2 linked regions of the Homo sapiens genome follow. The protein of the gene in region 1 binds, or shares a complex with, the protein of each later gene. Each region holds a gene or a part of one and is shown on either strand. Other genes may lie near its edges. A codon is read from its position in the direction of its gene.

The links.
Region 2: the proteins of UBXN2B (region 1) and VCP are in contact, whole or in part, in a cryo-EM structure (PDB 8B5R), measured with the Homo sapiens proteins. Residues at the interface, in NP_001071087.1 of Homo sapiens: Phe215, Ser216, Gly217, Glu218, Gln220, Leu222, Gly223, Leu225 (codon at 7,691); in NP_009057.1 of Homo sapiens: Arg113, His115, Glu132, Leu140, Ile182, His183, Cys184, Glu185, Glu187.

Annotation. Positions count from the first base shown.
Region 1 is NC_000008.11:58,437,425-58,453,598, reverse strand, and holds the end of UBXN2B (UBX domain-containing protein 2B), read right to left. Parts: intron 13,967-16,174; coding exon 13,829-13,966; intron 7,693-13,828; coding exon 7,531-7,692; intron 6,211-7,530; coding exon 6,048-6,210; 3' UTR 2,098-6,047; downstream 1-2,097. UniProt on the Homo sapiens protein: Adapter protein required for Golgi and endoplasmic reticulum biogenesis. Involved in Golgi and endoplasmic reticulum maintenance during interphase and in their reassembly at the end of mitosis.
Region 2 is NC_000009.12:35,051,476-35,067,649, reverse strand, and holds the end of VCP (transitional endoplasmic reticulum ATPase), read left to right. Parts: intron 1-832; coding exon 833-975; intron 976-2,268; coding exon 2,269-2,399; intron 2,400-3,364; coding exon 3,365-3,496; intron 3,497-4,569; coding exon 4,570-4,672; intron 4,673-5,299; coding exon 5,300-5,433; intron 5,434-5,511; coding exon 5,512-5,647; intron 5,648-5,960; coding exon 5,961-6,073; intron 6,074-6,470; coding exon 6,471-6,635; intron 6,636-6,726; coding exon 6,727-6,849; intron 6,850-7,124; coding exon 7,125-7,337; intron 7,338-7,848; coding exon 7,849-8,157; intron 8,158-8,430; coding exon 8,431-8,586; intron 8,587-10,119; coding exon 10,120-10,274; intron 10,275-10,427; coding exon 10,428-10,533; 3' UTR 10,534-11,586; downstream 11,587-16,174. UniProt on the Homo sapiens protein: Necessary for the fragmentation of Golgi stacks during mitosis and for their reassembly after mitosis. Involved in the formation of the transitional endoplasmic reticulum (tER).

The sequences.
Region 1 (16,174 bases):
GCTTCGGCAAGACTCACGTCTCCAAATACCGAGCTCCCTGTGAGCAATTTCTGTCCCTTTTAAGGGCTTACAACTCTAAGGAGGTCTGCATGAGAGGGTCATGATCGATTGAGCAAGCAGGGGGTACCTGACTGGGGGCTGCATGCACCTGTAATCAGAACGGAACAGAACAGGACGGAGATTTTCACAATGCTTTTCCATACAATGTCTGGAATCTATAGATCACATAACCAGTTAGGTCAGGGGTCGATCTTTAACCAGGCCCAGGGCGTGGCGCCAGGCTCTCTGCCTGTGGGTTTCATTTCTGCCTTTTAGTTTTTACTTCTTTGGAGGCAGAAATTGGGCATAAGACAATATGAGGGGTGGTCTCCTCTCTTAATATAGAAAGATTTATCTAAAGGAAAATGAATCATGAAGTTCAAACTTTGTAAAAGAGCATTTTCCCCTGCACAGATCCCCAGGTCATAGCTATAAATTCCAAAGAGGCAAAACTGTTAAGCTAAGTGGATTAGAGCTAATTATTAGTTCTAGGACACACATGCTATTTTCATGTGCTATAACACACACACACACACATACATATACATGGTTACACATGTGTACTAGGGCTTTTTATAAACTATTTGAGTTAGAAGATACTTTAATTAAAAACTTTACAGAGGATTATAGAAATTATTAGCCTTTATGACAATATTGGTCACATATATATTCACATCATTGATCAGGGACACTCTTAAGGGGCAAACACTAATACAGGATATAGAAATAAATTATTTAGGCAGATAGTGAGGGCAAAAGAGTCCTCAACAGAACTTCCCTTTTAACAAAAAGCAGCCCTAGAAATCATTTCTTTTCCAACAAAGAGCAGCCTGAAAGATCGAGCTGCAAACATAGGTAAGGAAGCTGGAAGATTGCACGGGAGGAGGCCTGCAGCTGTGCCAATAGAAAAGGGTTACCTGGGGGCCAGACATGTCCACCATGGAAACTCCATCTTCCCTTTTTTGTTAGCATGTGTACAGTAAGAAAGAAATGGGCAACATGGAGAAGCTCAGGCAGAGAACCCACCTGCATAATAGAAGATTGGGGTGGGGGCTGCCAGAGATTTATACCCTATGCAGATGGCACACCTGTTCCTAACTGGCTTTTTGCACCCTATGTACATCAGCACTACTCCCGCCCCACTAGCTGATCTATAAAACTCCCTACATTTCACTGCGGATCAGCAACCAATTTTTCCAGGACCCCTCTTGGTAGCAGAGATCTTCTCTTTCTTTTGCCTACTAAACTTCAGCTCTTAACCTGTGTGTCCGCATTTTTGATCTCTGTGGCTGTGAGACAACGAACCTCGGGTGTCGCCCCAGACAAGGCCGCTTCAACATGATGCACTTTTTAACAATAGACGTTGCATGAACCCCAAATACCTGAGACAGGTCTCGATTTAGGAAGTTTATTTTGCCAAGGTTAAGGATGCACAGGTGTGACACAGCCTCAGGACGTCCTGATGACATGAGCCCAAGGTGGTTGGGGCACAGCTTGGTTTTATACATTTTAGGGAGACATAAGACATCAATCAATATATGTAAGATGGACATTGGATCAATATGGAAAGGTAGGACAACTCGAAGTGTGGGAGAGGACTTCCAGGGCACAGGTAGGTAAGAGACAAATGGTTGCATTCTTTTGAGTTTCTGATGAGCCCTTCCAAAGGAGGCAATCAGACAGGCCTTTATCTCAGTGAGCAGAGATAACTGAATAGAATGAATGGGAGGCAGGTTTGCACTAAGCAGTTTCCAGCTTGACTTTTCCCTTTAGCTTAGTGATTCTGGGGTCCCAAGATTTGCTTTCCTTTCACAGTTGTGACAAGGTTTTCAGAAATCCATTGTGGCAAAAAAGAAGCACCTGAACCTTTTTATTTGGGTAGAATAAAAACAGAAACAGTAACAGGATATTCAGATAATATGCTACAACCAGTTCCTTCCCTGTCCCTGACAAAGGTGCGCCAAGGGAAATTAAACCACAGGAAATGTTATTCATGTTAAAACAATCTATTCAGGACTCAAAACTACAAATCAAAGAAAATTTGAAAAACCTTTCCAATAAGTTTCAGTGAAAACATTCTTTATTAGTAAGCAGACATTTCAAACTTTTTGATTACATACATCATGCAAAATGACTGACCTCACAGATGGTTGTCTGTTCATTGTGACATCTTTTTTGAGATGATTATAAATTTAAGATGACTGCAGTAGTAAAAATAATTCATGAAAATGACTCTCAATGAAGCAAAACACTACATAGCACACATGAAATACTGTTCATCCCTCCTGGATGTTTAATTCTCTCCTAATGTAAATCTCTATCTTGGAAGACTATTATATACAAAAATGGCAGTTGTTTTTGTATGTGCATCTATAGGCACTCAACTGATAAAAACAAGAAAATTTCAAATAATTTTACAAGGATTGGTTATTTTTCCTGTTTTGTTAATCCAAAACAGGACAATGCCCTTTGATTTACAATGTTCAATTCTTTTAAGAAATCATTTTCTTCGGAAGATGATTTTGACCCATGAAAAAGTTGTTTTACCCCTGGTAATCTTTTTGAAATGGGGCTGGCTGTTACACATTATCCAAGTTGTTTTCAGTAAGTGAAAAGGAGTAGGGCTTATTTTGAGAATTCCTCTATATTACGGCACTGAGAAAACTTCTCTGCAGTGGTGGGCTCACCACTTTCATCCTGTGGTAGTTCTGGTAGCACTCCCAGTGTGAAAACCCTAGCACAGGTAAATTCACCTCTTTGAAATAAACAGTGACCCTGGAGAAAGGTGAATTCCAAATCTAGTACCATATTCAAGTCATCTGGCAGAGAAGCAGGCATAAAAGAGTTTTCTAGGTACTTGAGGTGCTGCTGTAACAAATACCTAAAAGTAGAAAAGTGGCTCTGGAATTGGGCAGTAGGTGGAGGCTGGAAGAATTCTGAGGAGCATGCCAGAAAAGAAGCTAAACTGCCTTAAACAGACTGTTAGTAGAAATATGGAATGTTAATGCTAGGGCGGCCTTGAAGAAAGGAGCATAATAGAGAATACCTCGATTGCCATAGAATATCTAAATCATCATGAATAGACTGTTGGTAAAAAATGAGGAATATGTTACTGGAGAAGTGGAGGAAAGGAGTCCTTGTTACATAGTGGCGAAAAGCTAAGCTGAGTTGTGTCCTGCCGTTATGTGTAAAGCAGAACTTTTAAGTGATGACTTCAATATTTAGCTGAGGATATTTCCAAGCAAGCTGTGGAAGGTACAGCCTGCTGTCTTCTTGCTGATTATAGTAAAATGTGGAAAGAGGTAGATTGAGGGAAGACCTGTTAAATATAAAGAAACCAGGACTTGATGATTTGGGAAATTCGCGGCCTATTCAAATGGCAAAAGCCACTAAAACTAAGATTCACCGTCAGGACAGCCTTTACTCTAGAGAAAGTGATGAAGATATGGCTGTATAACCTTTTGCTAATACTTCAGAAACATCAAAAGGTCTGAATATCAGGTCACACACAAGACTCTTTGAAGATATTAAGGGTGTGAATCATAGATCCTCTCAGCTATTTCAGAAAAAGCCAAAAACAGAGACAGGATTTTCCAGGAAAGATACGTGAGGAGCCTCCTATCTAAATGAGTGCATCCCTGTGACATATGTAAAAGACCCACAAGTTTCTTGACAACGTTATAGCAGCAGAAGCACCACCATTTTTAACAGAAAGCTTTAGAGAATATAAAAGAAGAACAAACTGATAAGTTGATACTCAGCTGCAAACGTGTGCTACCTTTTGTGAAAAAGTAAAGATGACTCTGAGACAGTCAACAAGCCCAGAGAACAGCAGTGAGCTGAAGATTACTCCCAGGCCTTGAAACTTAAAGAAGGGTGCCTCGCTGGTTTTGTAAATTGATTGGTGCTGATGGCTCCTTTTTCCATCTGTTTCTGCTTTTTGAACAGGAACGTGTGTAACTATTATTGTCTGCCTGTCATGCCATCATACTTGGGAACAGATAACTTGTTTTCTAGGTTCACAAGTGCACAGTTGGAATTATGTCCCAGAAATCACACACAGATCCTCTCCCAAACTTAATTTAGATGGCTTCAATGTGAGATTTGAGACTTTTGAGTTGGTGAGACTCAGATAAGATTTTGGATTTAGAGTTGATGCTGTAATAATGGATTGTGACTTTTGAGCACCTATGAGTGATGTAAATTTATTTGTGATGAATCTGAATCTTTAACACAGGAGTGGAGCGGGGGGTGGGTGGGAACTGTAGTAGGCAAGAATAATGTTCCATGTAAAATGTTAATGTCCTAATCTCCAAACCTGTATGTAACCTTAGATGGTAAAAGAGATTTTGCAGATGTAATTAAGGTTACTATGGATTTCAAGACAAGGAGATAAGCCTAGATTGGATATCCGGTGGGCCTCATTTAATCATGAGTCCTGCAGAGAACCTCTCCACACTGGTGTCAGAGAGATGTGGTAACAGAAGGGTCATAGAGATGAAACAGCACTGGTTTTTAAGATGGAAGAAGGAGGTCACAAGCCAAGGAATGAGGATGTCCTGTAGAAGGTGGAATGACAAGGAAATGATTCTCCTGTAGAGCCTCCTAACAGAATGCAACCCTGCCAACAAATTGATCTTGGCACCGCGAAACTCTTAACCTGGACTCCTAACCTACAGAATTGTGAAGATAATAAATTTGTGCTATTTTAAGCCACATTTTGTAACTTGTTATGGTGGCAATGGAAAACTAACCAGAAGTAATAATTAAGGATGAAATGGTGTCTAGGAAGAAGGAAAAGCTTCTGGCTTCAGCAGAAATGCAAACATTTATGCTGGTAATTCTTTAGATCTAGTCCGTCTGACAGAATTTACATTCCTGTATTTCTACACTAGTCTTGTTCTGGAGAAGACATTCTAGGTTGAGCACACAGAATAGTGTTTAGTGTATACAGTGAGTTTCCTAGAAAAATGTGTTGAATGAATAAATGAATGTGATCAACGCAAGCTCTGGGAGGAACTGTAATTACTTGATTTTAAAATATTGTTGCTGTTTACCATATCTTCTTAAGAACTGCTGACCTTTAGGCTGGGCGTGGTGGCTCATGCCTGTAATCCCAGCACTTTGGGAGGCTGAGGTGGGTGGATCACCTGAGGTTCGGAGTTCGAGACCAGCCTGATCAACACAGAGAAACGCTGTCTCTAGCAAAAGTACAAAAATTAGCCAGGCATGGTGGCGCATGCCTGTAATCCCAGCTACTTGGGAGGCTAAGGCAGGAGAATCTTTTGAACCTGGGAGGCGGAGGTTGCGGTGAGCAGAAATTATGCCATTGCACTCCAGCCTGGGCAACAAGAGCAAAACTCCATATCAAAAAAAAAAAAAAAAAGAATTGCTGACCTTTATGTGTTTCTGTTTAAGTTCACAACAGTCATAATTCTGTAAAATACAAGGCAAAACTGTAGTTTCTGATACTAGTAATATATCTAAATCAGTAAGTAAAAAGGATGTGTAAAATCTTAATAGGAGAAATAATTATTGTATGATCAAACAATTTCAAAATCAAAAGACACGTTTCAGTATATATTATAGACAAATTTTCAACTTATTTGATCAAAAGATTTCTTAATGGCTGTTGGTCAATGCTGCATCAAGAAACTTTAGTGCAAATTTTACCAAATGCATTTATCAAAAAGGGGTTTTGTTCATTTTTCTCTGCAAACAAATGTTGTTACATTAACACTAAGCATGTAACAACTCATTTGCCTAGAAATCCAAAAACTATCAACATAAGCCAGTCCTTCAACTAAAAACTCAAACATACTTATCTCAAGGTCTATTCCTAATCCAAATTTGTCTATATTCAGATTGGAAGACAGAATAACAATAAAACCAAAATTTATCTGTAAAAATAATAAAAATAATTTGGCTGTTTTTAATGCTGAAGTATTGTCCTTATTAATACGGCACATCATCTATTCCCACATGCTACTGCATGGACAGGAACAATATTATTTTAGTTGCTGGAGTAACACAGTGTTAAGAATATCTGCTTCTAGCAGTGTCAGGCTTTCATCTGTTAGCTCTTTATTCGGAAATGAAGTCACAAGAATAAAGTCAAGAGCCGCAAATTCAGGACGAGACTGTACAATAAAGTTCCGGACATCCAGGATCCTGAAGAAATAAGACAAAAATAATTTGTAATATAAAAAATCATATTTTCATGTAAACTTAAAACTGAATCATAATAAAAATCACAAAATTTTAATCTTTATATAAAGGTGTTGTAACTTTCTTTAATATATAGTATTTCAATTGAAGGATTTATCTTAGGCTTCAGTTAAAATGTAAAGTAACTTTAGTGTGTACTTAACATTTACTTTTCCTGTAAAATGGAAACAATCTTCAGGTAAGTTATGAATAAAGTAAGTGTACTAATGTTGTTATTTTAAAAGTGCAGGTCCAGCTGGGCACGGTGGCTTACGCCTGTAATTCCAGCACTTTGGGAGGCAGAGGTGGGCAGATCACTTGAGGCCAGGAGTTCAAGATTAGCCTGGCTAACACGGTGAAAACCCCGTCTCTACTAAAACCAGAAAAAATTAGCTGGGCATGGTGGTGGCTGTCTGTAATCCCAGCTACTCAAGAGGCTGAGCATGAGAATTGCTTGAATCTGGAAGGCGGAGTTTGTAGTGGGCTGAGATTCCGCCACTGCACTCCAGCCTGGGAGACAGAGTAAGACTCTGTCTCAAAAAAAAAAAAAAAAAAAAAAAAAAAAAAAAAAAATGCAGGTTGTACTTTTTTCGGAGTATAAAATGTGTTAGCAGCATATGACCCAGAAAAAGGTAACTATGATTGGCCTGTGGCAAGGTGAGTCTAAAACTATGAAATGTGCTATCATAGGAATAATTTTAAAAAATTACTCTCACATAAACATAGTAATTCAACCAAAATCATAAATATATCTATTAGGGTCTTACTTCAATGGACAAATCAAATGTTGATGTACAAGTCAATATTAAAGAAACATTTAAAACTATCTGAAGTTCTTGACAAAAGTACAATTAAACTTGATTTACAATACACATTTATATTATGAAGTATTTGCTATACAGAAAATTAATCCCAATCAAAATTATCACAAATTTTTAAATGAATAAAGTCCCCAAAAGGTTTTACTATGTTAAATTAAATCTGATTCGACTTCATATAGTTTTAGTAACAACGTAAAACTATAGTTCTTAATTTATTTTTGTGTGATATCTGAGATCACATTAGTATTTGGATAGTTTATAGAGACTGTTTAAATACCACATATTTCATTTCTTAAACACAGCTATTGTCCTTTTAAAAATGTTTCTTCTGTCAAAAACTTACTTCAAAAGTAAACCTAAAGAATATCATATTCTTCATTACTCAAGTCACATACAGTTCTACTTAGATAAGCAATCCAGTGTATATAACAGCAAACAGGACACTGTTGGTAAAGAAGCTTACCTGTGTGTACTATTGAATCTTTGTATCAAACGACTCCCATCTGCTAACCTGATTTGAATTTTTGTTGTTGGCACTGAATCATCAATAAGAACAACTGCATTAAGTATTGATTTATCCTCCTCTTCTGGAGAGGAAGGTGTACTGACTATTTCAGGTGTAAGGCTAAAAAAGAGGAATTAAACACAAATCTGAATGTGTAAAATATATGACAAACTGAAGACAGCGATAAACACTTAGAACATGGCTTCATTTGAGTCTCCTATACTTCTTTCAACCTCTTTCATTATATTAAAGTTATTTTGGATCCTACGATTCTTATTTGGTTTATCTAATCTCTCATAAAAGCCTAACTTTGCATCCTTTCCTCATTTAACTGTTTGCAACTTCATCACTGTTTAGCAAACCAGTTTTATTTAGAAATACGAGCAACTCTGAGTTAGGGTCAAAGAATCATTAAGAGCACAGACAGACATGGTTTCACATCCCAGCCATGTCAACTGTGTAAAGTTGAGTAAGTACATCAATCATTTTGAATCCCAGTTCTATCATTTATAAAGTGAGGGAATAATACTATGTTATGAAGGTATATTATACCAGTAAGTCCTTAATATTGTGCCTAGAACACAGTGTTTCAACGGGTGCCAGCTATTGTGAACATATTATCAGCACTAAATTCATTTAATTTGGACTTGGTTAATATCATTTAAACACATCTGATTCAAGCACTGCTTTGCAAAAGAGAAATAACTTCTAAGTACCATTGAGGAATAAAATGTTATTACATGACAATAAATTCATAATGAAGCTTGATAGAATATCTTACCATTAGAACTTGGTTACTAGTGACCCTGGCATTGCTGTCTTAGCCCCTTCTAACACTAGCAGGATGATCAGCCAGTATATGCCAAAAGTGAATGTCAAAAATAGAGGAGTGCTCTTTTGGTTAAATAATTCAAATAAATTTAGCTCAATTTTCTCAGTCATCTTAAGGAATTTTTGATAGTCTTGAAGTTTTTTCTCTTGAACTCTGAGATTTAGATGGTTTCCTATAGATTATTTTCTTCTGGAAGAAAGACACGCATGTATCTACATATTACTAGTATAAAAGTTCTATGAGCATTTGGGCTTTAGTCCAATCTAAATCATCATGACTCTTACTTCCATTCAAAAAGCTTCTCTCTCAGAGTACACAGTAAAGTGATAAAATTACCTGGTACTAACTGCTGACACTTTCTCTTTCTTTAGCTATTTCCTGATGCTAATTTTAGAACTGATTTGAGGATACATAAAAATATACATAAGGTTAAAATTATGACTTACAATAAATGATCAGATATTAAGGAATTTCTTTTTAATTTGGAATTGAGGGCCTAAGTAATTGCACTGCCAATCTGGTTTACTGTGCCAAGAGTCCAGCGTTCCTTACACAAGGGAGGGGGATGAAAATCCAAGAGAAAAGACATGAGACACTGAATGCAAAGGTCCTCTTTACCTCCGCCTCACTGATAACCAGGTATACACATTATCATCGTCACTACCACCATTACCACCTCTGCCACATGCATTATTTCATTTACATCAGCCTGGGAAGCAGTGTTAACAGCATGGTTCTCAGAGCTGGATTACCTGGTTTCAATCCCAACTCTGCACTTATTCTGTAACACCAGGCAAGTCACTTACCCTTATTGTGCCTGAGAGCCAACAGCAGCAGTGCTGTAAAGATTAAATTAATTAGGACACATAAGCACTTCAAATGGTGCTTTTATATAGTTGGCACTACTAAAAGTTGGCTATTAGCATTATAATTATCCTAACAACAACTCTGGAAAAAAAAAGTTACCCCCAATATTCCTATTGGTAAGTGAGAGAGCTGAGGTTTATATTGGGCTCTTTCTACACACCAAGTTGCCTCCCTATTATTTTTGTAATCTACTGCTTTCTGTTTTAAGGCAGATTCTGACCAGGTATGCTTTTTCTCAAAACAGAAAATGGAGGATGGGGAAGCTAGGTAAGAAAATGTGTGTATGTCACAATGAAACTATTGTATATGGAATAATAACATTTGAGAACTGGAATGGATGGACTTCCAACATAATTTAGGCCAACCATATCATTTTATCTAAAAGAAACCGAGTCACAGAGAGACTAAAAGACATGCTCAGAACCACACAGACAGATAGCTGGACAAGCTGGTAGTGTGGTATTAAAAAACCAGCCTAAAAAGTTATGTTAATTAATTTATTTTATTTATTTATTTTTCTGGGATGCAGTGTTGCTCTGTTGCCCAGGCTGGAGTGCAGTGGTGTGATCTCAGCTCACTGCAACCTCTGCCTCCTGAGTTCAAGTGATTCTCCTGCCTCAGCCTCCCAAGTAGCTGGGATTACAGGTGCCTGTCACCACATGCGGCTAATTTTTTTTTTTTTTTTTTTTGGATTTTTAGTAGAGATGGGGTTTCGCCATGTTGGCCAGGCTGGTCTTGAATTCCTAATCTCAAGTCATCTGCCTGCCTCGGCCTCCCAAAGTGCTGGGATTACAGGTGTGAGCCACTGTGCCCATGCAAGTTATGTTAATTCTAATATTTAGCTGTCAAAATCACATCTGTTTGCTATTTAAAACTTTCTCCCTATCATTCAATTGATCAAGCCATAGTAAAACTTTTACATTAAAAAGAAAATTTTTTAAGAAAGAAAAGAGAAATTAATTGGTACAACAAGGTTTGTAGGCAAATGGCAGGAAAGGATGTAGGTTGTAATTCCCTCAGAGACAGGAGAAACACCCTCTTCTTCAAACTTATGGAGGGAGAGGAGGATGGAAATGACCAGCTTGAAGGCTGGAGGGAAACATAATAAGAATGTGAATTCCCGTCAGGTTCTATTTTCTCAATGAAGCTGGAAGCAAAGAAATTTGCTGAGAGTGAGGGGCAGGGGTCGAGGAGGGGGTTTAGGAAAGCAGCTCAGGCCTGTGAGACTGGCGAGGCACAGCACTGCCTGCTCAGCACAGCTGAGGCTGTCCCCAGAAGTACTGAGTCACACAGGGCTGACAACCCAGTCAGGCTTCAGTCAGCTCACAGCTGTTGAGGAGCTGAGATAAAGTAAGGCTTTGAAGTTTTAGAGAAGACAGCCCTCAGGGTCTAGGGCCCCAGATGAAGTCAAATCTCAGGTAAGTGAGAGTGGCAAGCACAATCTTTTGAAGAGAACAGTAGGACAAACAGGCAGTGACTGTTCTTCTGCAGAAACATCAGCTTCAAATCATGATTTTTATCATTATACACGCCAGCTCAAAAGCCTACCAAGAATGCCTACTCGCTAGTCCTCCCTATTAAAAATGACTCTGTGATTTTGTTAGGCACTACTCTAGCTCACCAAGCTAATTTTTACTCAATAATACAGTTTGTTCTACCATTGCAAATTTGCAGTTTTATATCTATGGTTTGCTTTCTTCTATTATGTGAGGGTACTATGTAACATTTTTACAGCATTTTGGTTTGCACCATAATTGTATATCACATGAAAAGATTTAGTTCCCATCTATGTAACATTCTGTGTGTAATTAGACTGCCATCTATGGAAGACAATAGATTATTTTCATTTCTGTTTTACTTGCTTCTTTTTATTTCCTGCTCAGTAAATAATTGTCTTGAACTCTTGAGAACCAAGCCATTTTAGAAAGTTACTTTCTAAATGAAGGTTAACTATTAAACTTTTAATATATTTCTTAATGTAAATCTTTAATATAAAATGTTCTATGTAATTCTTCACTTTAGAATATATGATATTTGCTTATTCAACATTTGGGTTTGTGAACACATAGGCTCACATCATCATGCTATCTCCTTCTACTAGAAGCTGAAAATTCTAAAGACTCCATCTCCCAGACTCTCTTGCAGCTAGGATTTCATGATTCTACCCTTCCACCAAACAAACATACACTTGTTTGGTGGAAGTAAGCACTGCAAAGTGGAAACTCTGTAGCTCTTGTGGTTACTAAGGTGGTGGAGGCATTTATTTCTTCGATGATGGAATGTTCTAGTATCTAGTCCCTAGTTTCATGGGCACCAAGCACCTGACTAGGGGACATAGTTGTTTTCTCTGGAACACTCTTCCACTGTGTTTGTTTCTCCTGGCTAAGGAAAGCTTGGTTTGCTTGCCTCTTCCAGATATTCTATAAACTACACAAGATCCTGTAAGAAACCTATTACTACCAGCAAGTAGATTCTGTTTTCCATAATCAAAATCTTGATCAATATGGCTAGTAAATTAACATGGCATTATTACCACTGATCTCTGTCACTTTCTTCCATCAGTTTCTCCTTTCTTTTCTGTTATTTTCTCTATTTGCCTTATAAGGAAAATGACTGGCCTTTGTGAATACTATCATCAGATAATATCGTTATTTTCATGAGTTTAATAATCACTGGCTCTTCTTAGCTGCCTTCCCTTTATGCTACCTTCTTCAATTCCAAGTCTAGATTTACTGTAGGTCTACTAACAAGGATGTGCGGTCCAACATTAATTCTTGGTCATACATTTAAATAATAGAGAAGGAATATGTATATATTGAAGAGATGACTAGGCATTTTATCTGCATTCTAATTAAAAATCGTAATCTCAATAAATATTAAGTAAAAATGGGAAGTGATACAAAATTAAGAACATACATACATACTATATATACACATACATACATATATATACACATACATATATATATATATATATATGTTGATCACAACAAGAGGAGTAAAAACATAATATTATACAATTTGAGAGAAGCCTGGCCAGGCATAGTGGCTCATGCCTGTAACCCAGGCACTTTGGCAGGCCAAGGCAGAAGAACAGCTTGAGGCCAGGAATTCAAGACCAGCCTGGGCAACATAGTAAGACACGTGTCTCTACAAAACCTAAAAATGAAAAAAAATGAGCTGCGCTCGGCAGTGCCTATAGTCCCAGTCAGGAGAGTGGGGTAGGAAGCTTGCCTGAGCCCAGGAGGTCAAGGCTGCAGTGAACTATGACTACACCACTGTACTCCAGTCTGGGCAACAGAGCAAGACCCCATCTCAAAAAAAAAAAAAGAGAAAGAAAGAGAAGCCTGACGTGTAAAGAGAGACGAGGGAGAAAATTTCCAAGTAAACCTGTGACCTAAAATTAAAGAGTTTGTGTCCTAAGAAAAACAGGTCAACATAAATTCCTGTATTTCCTTTATGTCCCCAGTGCCAGTCTCTATCAGGAGAAGAGAATACAGAAAGGGAGACTAGAGATAGCAAAGCATAAAGAAGCAATATTGAATTTTTTCCTATCTTGAAAAATAAGGGGAGAATAGACAACCAGTGTACACGAGGCAACTGAAGGGGGCTTGGAAGGGAAGGAATCACATGAAGAGAAGCAAAGGATGCACCAAAGAATACACTGGAAACATTGCCAATGTGGCAATTCCATATCACCTGCAACAATATGTGGACGAGTAGAGGGTAACTTTTACCAACATATTTTAAATTTCTAAGATTACATTAAGCCATGGGTATTATAAAGGAAACCACTCATACATTCTGCCATGTGCGTTGGTTTTTAAATTGTGCTCTTCAAAGTCCTAAGGTTCTTTGGAAATGTCTCAGATACAATGCCTTCTTTCACCGACAATCAGAGGAGCTCAGGTTTTACATATTGCACTTCCATGACTTGAAAAAAGGGTTTGGCTGTTTAAAAACTATTGAAAATCACAAAGCTAAGCACATTGCTCCTGCTGCAAGAGTTTGGTCATTACTGATGGCAGACATGCATGCTTAAGTTGTGATGTAAGGTATCCATTATTTTATCTCATCGACAACCCTTTACAATTCTCTCCTTTGAAACCAGGTAATCTGAAAGAGGCATATAATATAGTGGTGAAAAGCACAAACTCTGTAGTCAGAGTGCCTGGGTTTGAATCCCACATGCTAGTCATTTCTTAGCTCAACAATCTTGGGCAAATTACTGCATCTGCAAAATGAAGTAATAACAGTATCTACATCAAAGAGCTGTTGTAAAGATTAAGTGAGATAACACATGTATACGGCTTAGAGGGCCACAAACATGGTAACTGCAATCTAAGTATTAATTACAGTATTATTAATATCACAATTAATATTATGATATAATGGTATCACATGATATAATATTATGATATAATATTAACAGATGTATATATCTAATGTGCATGGTTCATATTTTTGTTTTTTACTTCATAGGTCATTTTGCTTTTCTTATTCTCAAAGAAAAATTCATGTTCAACAAAGGTATTTTTCTCATTTTAGGATTTTTACCTTCCAAGTTTTTGCCCTTCTCCACTAAAAGCCTTGAACCTCAATCTAGGTTTTATGTATTCTTGATCCTGATGATCCTCCATATCCAAATTCACTTGGCCACCATGAACAAGGCGCTGAAGCTCCAGGGGAATCTCTCTTTTAAAAAGGGGGGAAAAAAGTTATCATTAAGTTTTCCAAGAATTAAACTACACTGTTGAGATTACTGTAATTATTTCATGAGCTACACTGGAAAACAGAATTTTTTGCTTAAATTATAACACAAAAATTTCCATAATGACTGATCAGTCCTTGTAGATCTTTTTTAAAGTCACTTCACATTACTCCTTACTGGTTCTCAACATAGGGATGCTTTGGTTGTCACAATTATCTTGGAGAGCTTCTGGTATTTAGAAAGTTAAATTTTAAGACAGCAATTTATATGTAAATCAGCACTAGAAAATTCCTATGAGGATAAAAAGGTAATGTGGATATTTATTAATAAACTCCTCGGAGAAAGTTCTGAAAATTGATATGGGTGTTTTTGCTTGTTGGGTGTACTAGTCCATTTGCATTGCTATAAGGAAATATCCGAGGCTGGGTAATTTATAAAGCAAAGAGGTTTACTTTGGCTCATGGTTCTGCAGGCTGTAAAAGCAACAAGGCACCAGAATCTGCTTCTGGTGAGACCTCGGGAAACTTACAATCACAGTGGAAGGCAAAAGGGGACCCAGCATATCACATGGCAAGAGCAGAAGCAAGAGGGAGATGGGAGGTTCCAGGCTATTAAACAACCAGCTCTTGAGTGAACTACCGGGGTGAGAACTCATTACCATGGGGATGGCACCAAGTCATTCATGAGGGATCTGCCTCCATGATCCAAAACCTCCCACCAGCCCCACCTCAGTAATGGAGGTCACACTTCAACATGAGATTTGGAGGGGACAAAACATCCAAACCATATCATTCCACCACTGGCCCCCCAAATCTCATGTCCTTCTCACATCACAAAATACAATCATCCCTTCTCAATAGTCCCCCAAAGTTTTAACTCGTTCCAGCATTAACTCAAAAGTCCAAAATCTCATCTGAGATTCAAGCCATCTTCTTTCTACCTATAATCCTGTAAGATAAAAAATTAACTATTTACTTCTAAGATAGAATGGTGGTATAGGCATTGGGTAAACATTCCCATTCCAAAAGAGAGATCTGCCAAAAGAAAGAGGCAACAGGCCCCACAGAAGTCTGAAACCCGGCAGGGCAGACATTAAATCTTAAAGCTCCAAAATAATCCTTGATGCCACGTCCCATATACAGGGCATATTGGTGCAAGAGGTGGGCTTCCAAGGCTTTGGGCAGCTCTGGCCCTGTGGCTTCTCTCATGGGTTGGAGGTGAGGACCTGTGGCTTTTCCAGGCTCAGGTTGCTGGTGGCGCCACCATTCCTGGGTCTGGAGGTGGCACCTCCCTTCCAACAGCTCCACTAGGCAGTGCACCAGTGGGGACTCTGTCTGGGGGCTCCAACCTCACATTTCCCTTTGGCGTGGCCCTCTAAAATCTAGGTGCAGCCTCCCATGCCTCTTTCACTTGTGCATTCTGTGTGCCTGTAGGCTTAACACCATGCGAAAGCCACCAAGGCTTACAGTAGTGGCTTGTGCCCTTCAGAGCGAGTGGAGGCCCAAGCTATACCTGGGGCTTTTTGAGCTGCGGCTGGAGATGCAGCAGCTGGGATGCTGGGAACAGTGTCCAGAGGCTGCACAGGGCAGCTGGGCCCCAAGTTTGGCCTCCAAAACTACACTTTTCTCCTAGGACTCTGGGCCTGTGATGGGGGTTGGGGGGGGGGCTGCCTTAAAGGTCTCTGAAATGCCTTCAAGGCTTTCTTCCCATCATCTTGATTAGTAGCACTAGGCTAGGCTCTCTTCTATTCATGCAAATCTCTCTATCAAGTGGTTGCTCCACAGCCTGCTTGTATTCTTCTCCTGAAAACACTTTCTCCTTCTCTACTACATAGCCAGGATGAGAATTTTCCAAACTTCAACGGGCTCTGCTTCTCTTTTAAATATGAGTTCCAACTTTAAATCATTTATTTGCTCCTATGTCTGACCACAGGTTGTTAGAAGTTGCCACAAAGCCTCTTGAATGTTCTGCTGCTTAGAAATTTCTTCCACCAGGGCCAGGCATGGTGGCTTACGCCTGTAATCCCAGCACTTTGGGAGGCCAAGGCAGGTGGATCATAAGGTCAGGGGTTCAAGATCAGCCTGGCCAAGATGGTGAAACCCATCTCTACTAAATACAAAAATTAGCCAGGCGTGGTGGTGAGCACCTGTAATTCCACCTACTTGGGAGGCTGAGGCAGGAGAATTGCTTGA
Region 2 (16,174 bases), on another chromosome or scaffold:
ATGGCTTTATTTTTTCCTACTAGAGGTGTAATTTATCATACTTATATCCTGGCTTAGGATACCACTCGAGGGTGTGTATGTATATGCCAAATAATCTCCTCACTACTCTCACTAGTATGTCTAATTGATGGCTTGTGTTGGGGTTGGAATGAGGTGGGGGTATGGGCATGGAAGGTGAGCTGCTAGCAGGTCTTTTAAGCCCCTAAGTTAACCCGGGAGAGAGGAATAGTTGGAGCCAGACCTGGGATAGCTCTCAATGTGAGTGATTTTGCTTGTTCTTGCATAATTTTAGGCAAGAGGTTACCCCATCTTGGAGTCATCTCTAGCCACTCCTACCCAACCAACCATCACCTGGCCAGGATCATCTCAGGCTTTTGATTCTTTTGAATGGAGTCTAAGTTTCATGTAGCTTTCTTCTTGGGAGTGCTTAGTCACTTCCTCAAGGTGTTCTGACCACCTGGCTGAGATAATTTTGTTTTTTTCACTTCTGTTTCACTGACCCTGACAATTGTTAGCTTAAGACCTTCCCTTGTAATATTGGGTCACCAGTATTAGCTAGAAGGGGATCATCCTTGGATATCTCCCTGAAGACCCTGCATGTCTTTGTGGGGTTTCTAAATGTGTGGCTCTTGATTTTGGCTCACTGATTAGGAGTGAGTGGGGCTGTTCCTTCGCCCTCACTTCCACCCTGTTCTCCTTCCTCTCTTCGCCTAAAGCCATCCTGCCTTTTCTTTTTCACTTACTATCAGCTATCTGTGCCAGGCCCTTTTGGACACCCAGTGCTTGGGCCCGAAGTGTGGTTGGTAATATGGAGTCTGCTTGTCATCCTCAGCATCCAGCCATGCCCTGATGTGAAGTACGGCAAACGTATCCATGTGCTGCCCATTGATGACACAGTGGAAGGCATTACTGGTAATCTCTTCGAGGTATACCTTAAGCCGTACTTCCTGGAAGCGTATCGACCCATCCGGAAAGGTGAGAGCTAATTCTGAGCTTAAGGATTATTGACTGTAGGGAATAAACCTTGGAACATCTTTATCTCATTTTCTTTTTCTTTTTTTTTTTTTAAATCTTTTATGCTTTTCCCCTGTATTTATTTATTCATTTTTTAAGAGATGGGGTCAGCTGGGCACCGTGGCTCACACCTATAATCCCAGCAATTTGGGAGGCTGAGGCGGGTGGATCACTTGAGGCCAGGAGTTTGAGACCAGCCTGGCCAACATGGCGAAACCCCATCGTGGGCACCTGTAATCCCAGCTACCTGGGAGGCTGAGGCATGAGAATTGCTTGAACCCAAGAGGTGGAGGTTGCAGTGAGCCAAGATTGGGCCACAGTACTGCAGCCTGGGTGACAGAGCAAGACTCTGTCTCAAAAAAAAAAAAAAAGAGACAGGGTCTCACTATGATGCCCAGGCTGGTCTCAAACTGCTGGGCTCAAGTGATCCATCTGCCATGGCCTCCCAAAGTGCTGGGATTACAGGCATGAGCCATCAAGCCTAGTCTCATTTTCTTTTCTTTTTTTTTTGAGACAGAGTGTCGCGCTGTCCCCCAGGCTGGAGCGCAGTGGTGCAATCTCGGCTCACTGCAACCTCCGCCTCCTGGGTTCAAGCAATTCTCCTGCCTCAGCCTCCCAAGTAGCTGGGATTACAGGCGTCTGCCACCACGCCCGGCTAATTTTTGTGTTTTTAGTAGAGACGGGGTTTCACCATGTTGGTCAGGCTCGTCTCGAACTCTTGACCTCAGGTGAGCCACTGTGCCCGGCCGCTAGACTCATTTTCATATATTTGTATACACACACATGCAAACCCTGCACACATATTCATATGTCTTACCCTCTTTTTTTCCTCCATCCTTCCTTTGCTCCATCTCTCCCCTTCTCTGTTCCAGGAGAGTAAGCTATCTTTATGGATCTCTGAAGGAGAAAGTGGTCCATTTTGGCTGGGTCAGGGTCCAGAGTGCACAGTTCTACCATTGGTGGTTGTAGTGAAAACTTGGGCTACCTATATGGCAGAAGTCAGAACTTGATGGGCTTCTGACATGTCAGGTTTTGTTCACTGACCTCTTGTCAGAGGGACTCTTCACAGTTTACCTTTCTCATCTTGCCTGCTGCTTATTAAGACAGGTGGGGTGGAGTTGGGGAGAGGTAGGGCAATATCTAATGAAGGGCACTATCTAATGAGCTTGGCATTTTGACCCCAGGGTCTGATGAGTTCTCACTTTGTCTTGTAGTTGACACCTCTAACTGTGCTTGTACTGTTTGCTCTCGCAGGAGACATTTTTCTTGTCCGTGGTGGGATGCGTGCTGTGGAGTTCAAAGTGGTGGAAACAGATCCTAGCCCTTATTGCATTGTTGCTCCAGACACAGTGATCCACTGCGAAGGGGAGCCTATCAAACGAGAGGTGAGTTTTCTCCCTGATTCCAGTATCCGATTTTATGATTACTCAGTGTGGCATCATGTGGTAACTGTCAGGACTGGGTGCTCGGCCGGCTGCGGTGGCTGACACCTGTAATCCCAGTACTTTGGGAGACTGAGATGGGCAGATCACTTGAGGTCAGGTGTTCAAGACCAGCCTGGGCAACATGGTGAAATCCCATCTCTACTAAAAATACAAAAATTAGCCAGGCATGGTGGTACACATCTGTAATCCCAGCTACTCAGGAGGCTGAGGCAGGAGAATCGGTTGAACCCAGGAGTCGGAGGTTGCAGTGAGCTGAGATTGTGCCACTGCACTCCAGCCTGGGTGACAGAGTGAGACTCTGTCTCAAAAAAGAAAAAGACTGGGTGTTCTTTGGAGAACTAACCATCTTTCAGGGATGAGAAACCTGCCAGCTATTCATTTCTGGGCCTAATTGTTTCTTGGATTTACCTAATGCCAGGAATTTCAAAAAACTAGACTGAACCCAAAATATATAAGTGATTGAAATCATTTTTGAAGTAAAGCTGATGGTGGCTTCAGGCCTCTGCCCATTCCCAGGGTTTCCAGCTTCAGATTTTAGAGACCCCTTCTCAGTAAGACTACGAGTAATGTGAGAGGCAAGGACTGTGCTAGAAATCTTTGCCTTGGGATTTTTGTAGTTGTTCTTTGAGGCCGGATCCCTTTAGAGGAGAATCTTTTTTAAATTTAATTTAATTTTTAATGAGATGGAGTCTTGCTGTATTGCCCAGGAACTCCTGGACTCAAGCATTCCTCCCACCTCTGCCTCCCAAAGTGCTGGGATTACAGATGTGAGCCACCATGCCGGGTTGAGAATCTTCTTATACGGTAGGTTTTTGCACACTAGGTAGTGGAATGATTTAGAGAAACTCAGCTTTTGCTGATATAATATTCTTGCCTTCTCCTTTCTTTATCTCCTCCATATTCAGGATGAGGAAGAGTCCTTGAATGAAGTAGGGTATGATGACATTGGTGGCTGCAGGAAGCAGCTAGCTCAGATAAAGGAGATGGTGGAACTGCCCCTGAGACATCCTGCCCTCTTTAAGGCAATTGGTGTGAAGGTGAGCATCCTGGGCTCTGGAATCAAGTCTAAAGTGGTGCCAATGTCTAATCCTGTCCCAATGTCTAATCCTGGGACTGTTTTCATGCATGGCTTTCATTATTGCCTTGGATTAGAGGGGCAATAACGTATCCTTTAGTTTACCTAAGGCTCTAAATTCATTAGAGCTGATGGTCTAAAACCAGAGTAGGCTAATCAAATTGTCTGTTGTGTGCGTGTGCGCACAAAACACACACACATATATATATGGGTTTTTCTTTACAACTCTTAGAATATAAAAGCCATTCTTGTATCAATGGACCCTGTAAAAACAAATCTCACCATAGTTTGCCAGCCTGTCTAGAGCAATGTCACCCAGTAGAAGTAAGGAAGTTAAGGAAATTTTCAGAGTGTTAAAGGGTTCTGAGTCTAAAACATTTGAGAACTATTGGTCTAGAGTGTAGCTTCTCAATCTTTTCCTAGTGGGAAAGTGTTTCCATGGAACACACTGAAGATGAAGTTACTCATTTTCCTAGTGGGTGGCACACAAATAATTTCATTTTCTATGTGGACAGTTTACATGTTCTGCTTGTGGATGAGGCCATAGAAAGGGTAGTGTTGAAGAAGAAAAATGATGATTGTAAGGAACAGCATTCCAGTGTGATAAATTCTGGAGGGCATGATTACTGGAGTGAGTGATCCTCTGGCAATGAAGAAAATAGACCCTGCTCTCTTAAATGGCTTAGCTAGTCTTTGGCCCTTGGTCTGTCTAAAATTGAGCCCTTAGTGTAATGGCCTCTTGCCTTTCCCTAGTCATGTATCTTCAAACGCATTTGGACTACAGTTTCTCTGCCCTTAGTCTCCTATGCAAGTTGCAATCATAAATGTTGCCCACTTTCTAGCAGTATTTTCCCTGCTAGTAATAGAAATGAGTGTGGCCTAAAGTAATTGTCTTCTTAGCATTTACTGCGGAGGGCTTATTCTTAATATTGTCAGGGTTGAAGCCTGATTCTCACCCTCTCTGGAGCGCTAGTCAAGCCATTTTAGGGTTTGGGAGAAGGTGGGAACCTAATCACACTCTGCATTGGTCCACAGCCTCCTAGAGGAATCCTGCTTTACGGACCTCCTGGAACAGGAAAGACCCTGATTGCTCGAGCTGTAGCAAATGAGACTGGAGCCTTCTTCTTCTTGATCAATGGTGAGATATTTGGTTCATCTTATGTCTAGCTAGACCCAATTTTGAACTGGGCTTATGAGCTGGAGCACTTATGAACACATCCTTTTTGCACCCATGCCCTCCTTCATGTTTATAGCATATTTCTTATGCTGGGGTATGTTACAGACAGAAGAGCAATAAAGGGAAGATATTTTACATTGGTGCTCCCTGTCCTGCCCCCTTTGAGAAAGATTGTGGACAGACTGCAGAGCGGGAGCAAGCTAGAATGAGAAATCAAAGGGTGAATGGTTAGTGATTTGAGAGGGTTTGGGGCAAATGAACTTTGATCACTGGCTCTTGGAGAATGCTGTTTAGTGGTGTGCCATCTGGTGTGCCATCTCTCTTGCTCTAGCCAGAGGTCCTAGAGCATTTGCTGTCACCTTTACAGTTCAACTGTGAGAAGAGTATAGTGAGTCCCTGGGCTTCTCTCCAGCCTTGCCTGGTGGCTGTCCTGGGATAATGGCTGGTAGAGGATGTGAGAAGTAGGCAGAGGTTACCACCTTCTCACCCAGGACCTGTCTCTGGGCCAAACAAGCAAGATAACTGATTTTTGGGAGGAATTGGGAAAGACTATCATTTTGTTATTGTCTCCATTCTGTATCCTTTCAGGTCCTGAGATCATGAGCAAATTGGCTGGTGAGTCTGAGAGCAACCTTCGTAAAGCCTTTGAGGAGGCTGAGAAGAATGCTCCTGCCATCATCTTCATTGATGAGCTAGATGCCATCGCTCCCAAAAGAGAGAAAGTAGGAGCTTACCTGAGGGGATAGAGGGGGGTTGAAAGGCCCTGACTTCACTTCTGACCAGACATCCTGTTCTGGCAGACTCATGGCGAGGTGGAGCGGCGCATTGTATCACAGTTGTTGACCCTCATGGATGGCCTAAAGCAGAGGGCACATGTGATTGTTATGGCAGCAACCAACAGACCCAACAGCATTGACCCAGCTCTACGGCGATTTGGTAAGGACTCCAGATACTTTTGACCCCGTCCTTGCTTAGGTCCTACTTCTCTCCTTCATCTAAGTCACCTAATCCTCTTGAAGCCCTTCACAGTGATTGGGTCCAGGGGTCTTTTTCCTTTACCCTACGTCCTGTCTAGAGTGACCAACCACCCTGGTTTTCCTGAGACTGAAAGGTTTCCCAGAGCTTGAGACTTTTTTAGTGCTGGCATTAGGACAATCCTGTGCTGGCTGAGATGGTTGGTCACCCTAGGCCTGTCTCTTACCTCTGGACTAGAGATGAGCCCTGTTTATGTTTGTGTACTGTCCCACAGGTCGCTTTGACAGGGAGGTAGATATTGGAATTCCTGATGCTACAGGACGCTTAGAGATTCTTCAGATCCATACCAAGAACATGAAGCTGGCAGATGATGTGGACCTGGAACAGGTGAAGTGATGATGATGGCTGACCAGGCGTTACAGTGTCTCTAGGCAGTTGCTGGGAACTGGCTAGAGACATAAGGTTAAGATGTGAGGAGATGGGTTTTGATTTCTGGACAGGGGAAAGGAAGTAATCTGAGATTGAATCCAGGAAATGGGAGTTGGCATTTTTCATAGTTGACGCTGCATTTAGAGTAAATCAGAATTGTTGGAGCAGCCTTATTTCTAGGTCCCAAGTCCAGAATTAAGTACTTAAAACCCAGCCCATAAAGGTATTGATAGTATATATTCAAGGAAATGAGAGGACCCAGGGATAGCAGTCAGGGGAAGGATTCTATTGTCTCTGAGCCTCCTGCAGCAGCTGGGTCTTTGAGGCAGCATAGTAAGTAGATCTTTCTCTGCAGGTAGCCAATGAGACTCACGGGCATGTGGGTGCTGACTTAGCAGCCCTGTGCTCAGAGGCTGCTCTGCAAGCCATCCGCAAGAAGATGGATCTCATTGACCTAGAGGATGAGACCATTGATGCCGAGGTCATGAACTCTCTAGCAGTTACTATGGATGACTTCCGGGTAAGGACCACACCCGTGCCTCAGGTACACACATACGTGCTTTGACCCCTCCCTTGATAAGTCTCATCCCCAGTTTTCCCTCCTTTTCTAGTGGGCCTTGAGCCAGAGTAACCCATCAGCACTGCGGGAAACCGTGGTAGAGGTGCCACAGGTAACCTGGGAAGACATCGGGGGCCTAGAGGATGTCAAACGTGAGCTACAGGAGCTGGTCCAGGTAGGGCAACTTGGTCCAGGGTGAGTCACTGTCTCAGTACATTGTAATTGATCTGGGTGATCTCAGGGTGTCAACACATTTGCTGCAAGAGTTGTGAGAGCACGACTTAGGAACCTACTGTTCTTAGGTTTGAGGCACTAAGGAGTCTTCTTCTAGAGAACCTGGATCTGATACCATTGGGTACACCATGAAATAATGGAGGGGATGCTTCTGTTTAGTTAGGTTTCTTTCAAAATGTGGAGGTAGCCTTGAACCCTCTTTCCTTTTCCTCCTAGTATCCTGTGGAGCACCCAGACAAATTCCTGAAGTTTGGCATGACACCTTCCAAGGGAGTTCTGTTCTATGGACCTCCTGGCTGTGGGAAAACTTTGTTGGCCAAAGCCATTGCTAATGAATGCCAGGCCAACTTCATCTCCATCAAGGGTCCTGAGCTGCTCACCATGTGGTTTGGGGAGTCTGAGGCCAATGTCAGAGAAATCTTTGACAAGGTGAGCTACAATAGGCTGAACTATGTATTGATTTGCCTGAGGGCAAGGAATAGAGGCTGTTTTTCTTTAAGAGGGTTGAAATATTCTTAGTGCTGGCTGCTCAACTGCACAGTAAGTCACTTGATTTTCTTTCTGAGGTCTGAGAGACCTAGTGTTATTTTTTTTTTCTCTCTCTCTCTCTTGAGACAGGGTCTGGCTCTGTTGCCCAGGTTGGAGGGCAGTGGTACAGTCATGGCTCACTGTAACCTTGAAACCTGGGCTTAAGCAATTCTCCTACTTCAGCCTCCTGAGTAGCTGGGACTATAGGCATGCGTCACCACATCTGGCTAATTTTTTATTTTTTGTAGAGACAAAGTCTCAGTATGTTGCCCATGCTGGTTTCGGATTTCTGGCCTCAAGTGATCCTCCCACCTTGGCCTCCCAAAGTGCTGGGAATACAGGTGTGAGCCACCACGTTTGCCTAGAGACATCTAGTTTTGTTAGTGCTTGAATCAATCCATTCCTCCTACAGGCCCGCCAAGCTGCCCCCTGTGTGCTATTCTTTGATGAGCTGGATTCGATTGCCAAGGCTCGTGGAGGTAACATTGGAGATGGTGGTGGGGCTGCTGACCGAGTCATCAACCAGATCCTGACAGAAATGGATGGCATGTCCACAAAAAAAAATGTGTTCATCATTGGCGCTACCAACCGGCCTGACATCATTGATCCTGCCATCCTCAGACCTGGCCGTCTTGATCAGCTCATCTACATCCCACTTCCTGATGAGAAGTCCCGTGTTGCCATCCTCAAGGCTAACCTGCGCAAGTCCCCAGTTGCCAAGGCAGGTGCAAGATCATGGGCTGTGGGAGACTTGCATGAGTCCTCAGGCTGGTACGGAGTGCTCTTTAGTTTCTGGACAAGATTCCACTGGGGTTAGGGTTGGTCTAAAGGGAAGGTAGAATTTTTGAGGATATCAAGATAATCTAGAATCAGGAATAAAATGGGGTGGCCAAAGAAGGGGCAAACTGTAGTTGGGAGTGCTCGGGTAGCCCAAAGATCTGCGTATCTCGAGAGGAGAGGCTAAATGCTAAGGTACCTCTGCTGCTGCTTTTAGGATGTGGACTTGGAGTTCCTGGCTAAAATGACTAATGGCTTCTCTGGAGCTGACCTGACAGAGATTTGCCAGCGTGCTTGCAAGCTGGCCATCCGTGAATCCATCGAGAGTGAGATTAGGCGAGAACGAGAGAGGCAGACAAACCCATCAGCCATGGTGAGTCTGCATCCTTTCCCCAGATGTGCCAATCATGGAGAGCCAGGCAGCAGCCACCACCATGCCCTGGAGTTGAGAGTAGAAGCTGTTGGAAAGATCATCTAACTGAGAAGAATTTTAATAGGGCATCAAAGATAAAGAATGCTGAGGTGAATCCATTCAATTTGGAATAAGGCCGAGAAGAGATGGTCAGGCTCCATTCTCAGTCTGAACCAAGCTCCATGAGGGAAATCAAAGTATGAGAGTGCAGCAAACACAGCAAGGTTTTTTTTGTTTTTTGTTTTTTGTTTTTTTTTTGAGACGAAGTCTCACTCTGTTGCCCAGACTGGAGTGCAGTGGCACGATCTTGGCTCACTGCAACTTCTGCCTCCCAGGTTCAAGCGATTCTCCTGCCTCAGCCTCCCGAGTAGCTGGGACTACAGGCACATGCCACCATGTCCGGCTAGTTTTTTGTATTTTTTTTTTAGTAGAAACGTGGTTTCACCACGTTAGCCAGGATGGTCTCGATCTCCTGACCTTGTGATGTGCCCACCTCGGCCTCCCAAAGTGCTGGGATTACAGGCGTGAACCACAGAGCAAGGTTTTGAGCTGAGATGAGACTCATATACTTATCCCTGATGGTTGGGGAAGGGATAGGGTCCACAGACCTCCCAAAATGAAAAGGCAAATTCATGTGTTTGTAAGTTCCATAAAGGTAAGATCTCTGTCATCTCACTTGTTTTCCACTATGTCTTGTGTTACCCTTAATTAATTCATTAAGTTCCAAACATGGGACTTAATGAGCAAATAAATGGCTTTCTTTCCCTTTTGAAGGGTCTGTGACATCCCTTCTCTCTCCCATAAAAGCTTAACAACTACTGATGAACTAATCCTAGGAGGTAGTCACATAAGTCACAGAAATTGGCCTCTCAATGGAAGAGATAGGTTTTGAGCTGGGCTGTGAAGAGAGTAGAATTTGAATAAAGGGAATAAGCAGCCCAAATAATGTGCTCTAGTAGTAGGATTGCAATCATTGGGAAACCCTGGGTAGATTTAAGAGTATATATGTCACTGGAAGTGAGACCGCTAGGTAGGATGTAATCCAAATGTGGTAAGCACTGAAAGCCATTGGCATTTCCTTTTAAAGTATTAAGGTTTATTAAGGTATGATATAAATACAATAAAATTCACTCTTTCTATATACCATTTCCATGCTTTATGACAAGTGTGTGTAAGTTCTATAACTACTACCACAGTTGAGACTTAAAATTTCTACTATCTCAAAAAGTTTCCTTAGCCACTTCAGTCAACATCTCCCCTCCTTAAGCCCCATCACTGATGTGATTTCTGTCCCTACAGTTTTCCCTTTTCCAGAGTGCATTGACAAGTTTTTAAGCAGAGCAGTGACTCAATTTTAGGAAGCATGGCCTAGCATCTTACCTCAGGTTGGATTGGAAGGGCAAGGAGACCAATAAACTGCAGTAATGGGAGGCCTGGGATGAAATCCAGGCTGGGCTTTAACTAGCCCTAGTGATCTGTGTTTACCAACTATAGGAGGTAGAAGAGGATGATCCAGTGCCTGAGATCCGTCGAGATCACTTTGAAGAAGCCATGCGCTTTGCGCGCCGTTCTGTCAGTGACAATGACATTCGGAAGTATGAGATGTTTGCCCAGACCCTTCAGCAGAGTCGGGGCTTTGGCAGCTTCAGGTAAGTTGGTTGGGAGCATTAGACAGTGCTTAAGTTACTTTGGGGACCTACACCAAAAGGGATGGGAGTCCTAAGGAAGCTAGAGGGGTAGTTGTGGAAATCTTACACAGGCCCTGTCCTAACCCTCTTTTTTGGCTTTGCTCTTGTACACAGATTCCCTTCAGGGAACCAGGGTGGAGCTGGCCCCAGTCAGGGCAGTGGAGGCGGCACAGGTGGCAGTGTATACACAGAAGACAATGATGATGACCTGTATGGCTAAGTGGTGGTGGCCAGCGTGCAGTGAGCTGGCCTGCCTGGACCTTGTTCCCTGGGGGTGGGGGCGCTTGCCCAGGAGAGGGACCAGGGGTGCGCCCACAGCCTGCTCCATTCTCCAGTCTGAACAGTTCAGCTACAGTCTGACTCTGGACAGGGGGTTTCTGTTGCAAAAATACAAAACAAAAGCGATAAAATAAAAGCGATTTTCATTTGGTAGGCGGAGAGTGAATTACCAACAGGGAATTGGGCCTTGGGCCTATGCCATTTCTGTTGTAGTTTGGGGCAGTGCAGGGGACCTGTGTGGGGTGTGAACCAAGGCACTACTGCCACCTGCCACAGTAAAGCATCTGCACTTGACTCAATGCTGCCCGAGCCCTCCCTTCCCCCTATCCAACCTGGGTAGGTGGGTAGGGGCCACAGTTGCTGGATGTTTATATAGAGAGTAGGTTGATTTATTTTACATGCTTTTGAGTTAATGTTGGAAAACTAATCACAAGCAGTTTCTAAACCAAAAAATGACATGTTGTAAAAGGACAATAAACGTTGGGTCAAAATGGAGCCTGAGTCCTGGGCCCTGTGCCTGCTTCTTTTCCTGGGAACAGCCTTGGGCTACCCACCACTCCCAAGGCATTCTTCCAAATGTGAAATCCTGGAAGTAAGATTGCACCTTCTTCCTCTCCTGATCAACATCGGTATGATGTCTCCTGTTGCCTCACCCTTTGTCTGCAGTATCACTGGATAGGACTGGTGGAAAGGGAGCAGCCTGACAGAGCTCCAAATGTGGAGAATATGGCATCCCTCCACCTATATTTGATGTGGACGGTAAGGCTAGGCCTGCAGGATCCCTTATCCTGACCAAAGACTGTGTTGGGGTGCCATTTGAAAATCGCAGGGTTGCAAAAGAATACAATCTTACTTGCAGGTGGATATTCTCTATACTCTCTTTTAATGCATCTAAAAATCCCAAACATCCCCTGGTTGGTGATCACTTACAGTTGTGTCCACCTTTATTTTATGTACTTTGATTAAAAAAAAAAAACTTTTTGTTAATATAAAATTTTAGTATTGAATTTTTTTTTTTTCCAAACAGAAAATAGACTATCCTCTTCAACAGTAATCACTTAGTGCTTCTAGGGTCAGTACAGTGATGCCTTACCCAGAGAGAGAGTAGTGCAGAGAAAATAAATTACTAAATTAAATATATGTTGATTGGCTTTGGGACATAATCTCAAAAGACAGTCCTGAACACCGTAATTTTGAATAAAATACTGTAATCTCCAAAGATCAAAATCCCTAAAGTCTAAAATTCTGAAAATCACAATCCCAAAAGGTCAAAATCCCAAAATACAATTCTGGAAGAAATACTAAACATTCTTCGAAAATTTACTTACATTTTTAAAAGCGTATTTATTTGAGAAACAACACAACAGAACGTTTCATAGGCCACTACACGATAAAATAGGGAATAGTAACATTTTTGCAAGATAAACACTCAGGTATACCAATGACAGTTGCACGGATATAACGGTGATGAGCAGATGAAACATTCATAAAGAAATAGGTCAAAAAGTGAAATGTATAAATGCTTTGTCACTATGCTTGGTAATTGTGGGCACCTAGCTTTATATAACTGGTCATCTGTAATACTGTGACAGAAAACCTAAGTCTTGATGAGATGGTTCAAAAACTGTTGCGTTACCACTGCATTGTCTCCCAAAGAGACGAGGTCTTGAGAAATTTTATCCTTCACAAATGCACGTGTACAAAAAACAGATGTCTCTTCGTTTATTGAGGAACTTTCAACATTTTTATGCACACATATAATGCTTACACACAGAGTCAACATTGCGGTCATGGAGTCAAATTTTTAATGTCCAAGGCACCAGAAGAAAAATCTGTCCTAGGCTGGGCATGGTGGCTCATGCCTGTAATCCCAGCACTTTGGGATGCTGAGGCGGGCAGATCACCTGAGGTCGGGAGCTCAAGACCAGCCTGACCAAAATGGAGAAACCCCATCTCTACTACAAATACAAAATTAGCCAGGCGTGGTGGCGCTTGCCTGTACTCCCAGCTACTTGGGAGGCTGAGGCAGAGAATAGCTTGAACCCGGGAGGCGGAGGTTGTCGTGAGCTGAGATGGAGCCATTGCACTCCAGCCTGGGCAACAAGAGCAAAACTCAATCTTAAAAAAGAAGAAAAATCTATCCTACCTCTTAGAGACCAATTTGCCTTCTGTATTTGTTCTCTCTGGGCCCCCGCCTGTTGGATGGTACCCACCAACATTGAAGGCAGATCTTCCCCACTCAGTCCACTCAGACTTACAAACTAATCCCCGGAAACAACCTCACAGACACACCCAGATAATGCTTTACCAGGTTTCTAAATACTCCTTAATCCAGTAAAATTGACACCTAAAATTAAGTCCACAATTCTGCTCATTGGCAACTTGGCACCCTTATGTGTCTAAACCATACTTAAGACAATAACAAGGTAATACTTCTGTATAACATGATGCAACTGTCTTGTTTACAACGAAAAACATACTAATCCTTTCCCCAGAATTTGAAATTTTATTTTGTCCAGGTTGTGATTTTAAGGATTTTGATCTTTTGGGACTTCAACATTTGGGGTTATGGTGTTTGGGATTGTGTCCTTCAGGATTATGATCAACACTGGTATTAGTCATCCTAGACTTTATGCTAGGCAAGACCAGGCTCCGTTTTGGTCTACATAGATAATCTTCAAGGATGCATGATACTTACACTGGTTGACTAAACTGGAGCAGCTCTGGAACTCATGCTGTGAAATGGGTATTTTTGCACTTTTGGTATTTGTTATTTCAGGAGGTTTTTAGGGAACAGGTGGTGGTTGGTTACGTGAATAAGTTCTTTAGTGGTGATTTCTAAGATTTTGGTGCACCTGTCATCTGAGCGGTGTACACCGTACCCAATGTGTAGTCTTTTATCCCTCACCGCCCCCCCACCTTTTCCCTGAGTCCCCAGAGTCCGTTGTATCATTCTTACGCCTTTGCATTCTCATAGCTTAGCTCCCATGTACGAGTGAGAACGTATGATGTTTGGTTTTCCATTCCTGAGTGAGTTCACTTAGAATAATGGTATTCCAGTTGCTGCAAATGCCATTATTTCGTTCCTTCTTATGGCTGAGTAGTATTCCCTGGATGTATATATACCACAATTTCTTTCTTTTTTTTTTTTTTTTTGAGATGGAGTCTCCCGTTGTCTCCCAGGCTGGAGTGCAGTGGCATAATCTCAGCTCACTGCAACCTCTGCCTCCCTAGTTCAAGCCGTCCTCCTGCCTCAGCCTCCCATGTAGCTGGGATTACAGGCACACGCCACCACGCCCAGCTAGTTTTTGTATTTTTAGTAGAGATGGGGCTTCACCATATTGGCCAGGCTAGTCTTGAACTCCTGACCTCAGGTATACCACAATTCAATTTATTTATCCACTCATTGATGGGCATTCGGGCTGGTTCCATTAGTTTTGCAGTTGCAAATTGTGCTGCTATAAACGTGCGTTTACAAGTATCTTTTTCATATAATGATTTCTTTTCCTCTGGGTAGATATCCAGTAGTGGGACTGCTGGATCAAATGGTAGTGCTACTTTTAGTTCTTTAAGGAATCTCCACACTGTTTTCCATAGTGGTTGTACTAGTTTACATTCCCACCAGCAGTGTAAAGTGTTCCTGATCACCACATCCACGCCAACATCTTTTATTTTTTGATTTTTTGATTATGGCCATTCTTACAGGAGTAAGGTGTTACCACATTGTGGGTTTGATTTGCATTTCCGTGATCGTTGGTGATGTTGAGCATTTTTTAATATGTTTGTTGGCCATTTGTATATCTTCTTTTGAGAATTGTCTATTCATGTCCTTAGAGCACTTTTTGATGGGACTGTTTTTTTCTTGCTGATTTGTTTCAGTTCCTTGTAGATCCTGGATGTTAGTCTTTTGTTGGGTGTATAGGTTGCAAAGATTTTCTCCCACTCCATGGGTTGTCTTTTTACTCTGCTGACTGTTTCTTTTGCTGTGCAGAAGCTTTTTAATTAAGTCCCATCTATTTATCTTTGTTTTTGTTGCATTTACTTTTGGGTTCTTGGGTCATGAAGTCTTTGCTTAAGCCAATGTCTAGAAGGGTTTTTCTGATATTCTAGAATTTTTATGGTTTCAGGTTTTAGACTTAAGTCTTTGAACCATCTGGAGTTGATTTTTTTTTTTTTTTGAGACGGAGTCTCCCTTTGTCGCCCAGCCTCAGAGTACTCCATCTCAGCTCAGTGCAACTTCTGCCTCCCGGGCTCAAGTGATTCTCCTGCTTCAAGCCTCCCAAGTAGCTGGGATTGCAGGCATGCACCACCACACCTCTGGCTAATTTTTGTATTTTTAGTAGAGATGGGGTTTCACCCATGTTGGCCAGGCTGGTCTCAAACTCCTGACCTCAGATGATCCACCCACCTCAGCCTCCCAAAGTGCTGGGATTTCAGGCATGAGCTGCTGCACCAGGCCTCGAGTTGATTTTTGTATAAGGTAAGAGATGAGGATCCAGTTTCATTCTTCTACATGTGAGTTGCCAGTTATACCTGTATAGCTGTGAACAAGGTGATAGCTCTTTTGGGGCCTCAAGTTTCTTAGTCTGACAAAATGATTGAAAAATGCTTTCTAAACTGTGGAAGCCTGCATACTTAAACCAAGAGGCAAATTGTATAGGCAGTCCATCTTTCCCCTCACATTATACCTAGAAAGAAACTGGAATGTGATCTTACCGTAGCTGATCACTTTATATAGGGTAAACACTGCGATTAGAGGTTGGGTTTCAGACCAAGAATGTGGTATCAAATAGAGGACCAGCAGTATGCCATAGAGGCAAAAACAAAGATGGAACAACATATCTAATGTCTTAAACTATGTTTATATTTGGCCAGGCGCGGTGGCTCACGTCTGTAATCCCAGCACTTTGGGAGGCTGAGGCGGGTGGATCACGAGGTCAGAAGATCGAGACCATCCTGGCTAACACAGTGAAACCCCGTCTACACTAAAAATACAAAAAATTAGCTGGGTGGTGGCAGGCACCTGTAGTCCCAGCTACTCGGGAGGCTGAGGCAGGAGAATGGCATGAACCCGGGAGGCGGAGCTTGCAGTGAGCCTGGGCGACAGATGGAGACTCCGTCTCAAAAAAAAAAAAAAAAATCGATCTATCTATATATATCTAGATAGATCGATCTAAGGTACTGATCCTACAAATTCCCCTGAAAGTTCAGTGGACACAATGCCCGTGAAGGATGCAGGTCTTCCATTTCAGCTGAACTGTGGCAAGTGTCAAATGGTTTGCTAACCCTTGCTCAGCCCCACAACCCACTAGGAGCTTTAAAATACTTAATATAGGATTTGGATTTTTTTTTTTATAAAGCTACTCAGATAAGTGTGAACTCACGTTCCCATGTAAAATGGAAATTCAGAATTGCATTGTCTTTGGAGACCATAGTAGTGGGAGAGGGAAAAGTACCTTTAGTTCCACCCTTGGCCAGCAGGTGGTGAGTTTTGGACTCAGACCCTGTTGACAGGTTTGAGCTAAATAAAGCTTTGGAACAGAACAGTGACACTAGTGAGAGGAATCAAGGAAGCAGCATGT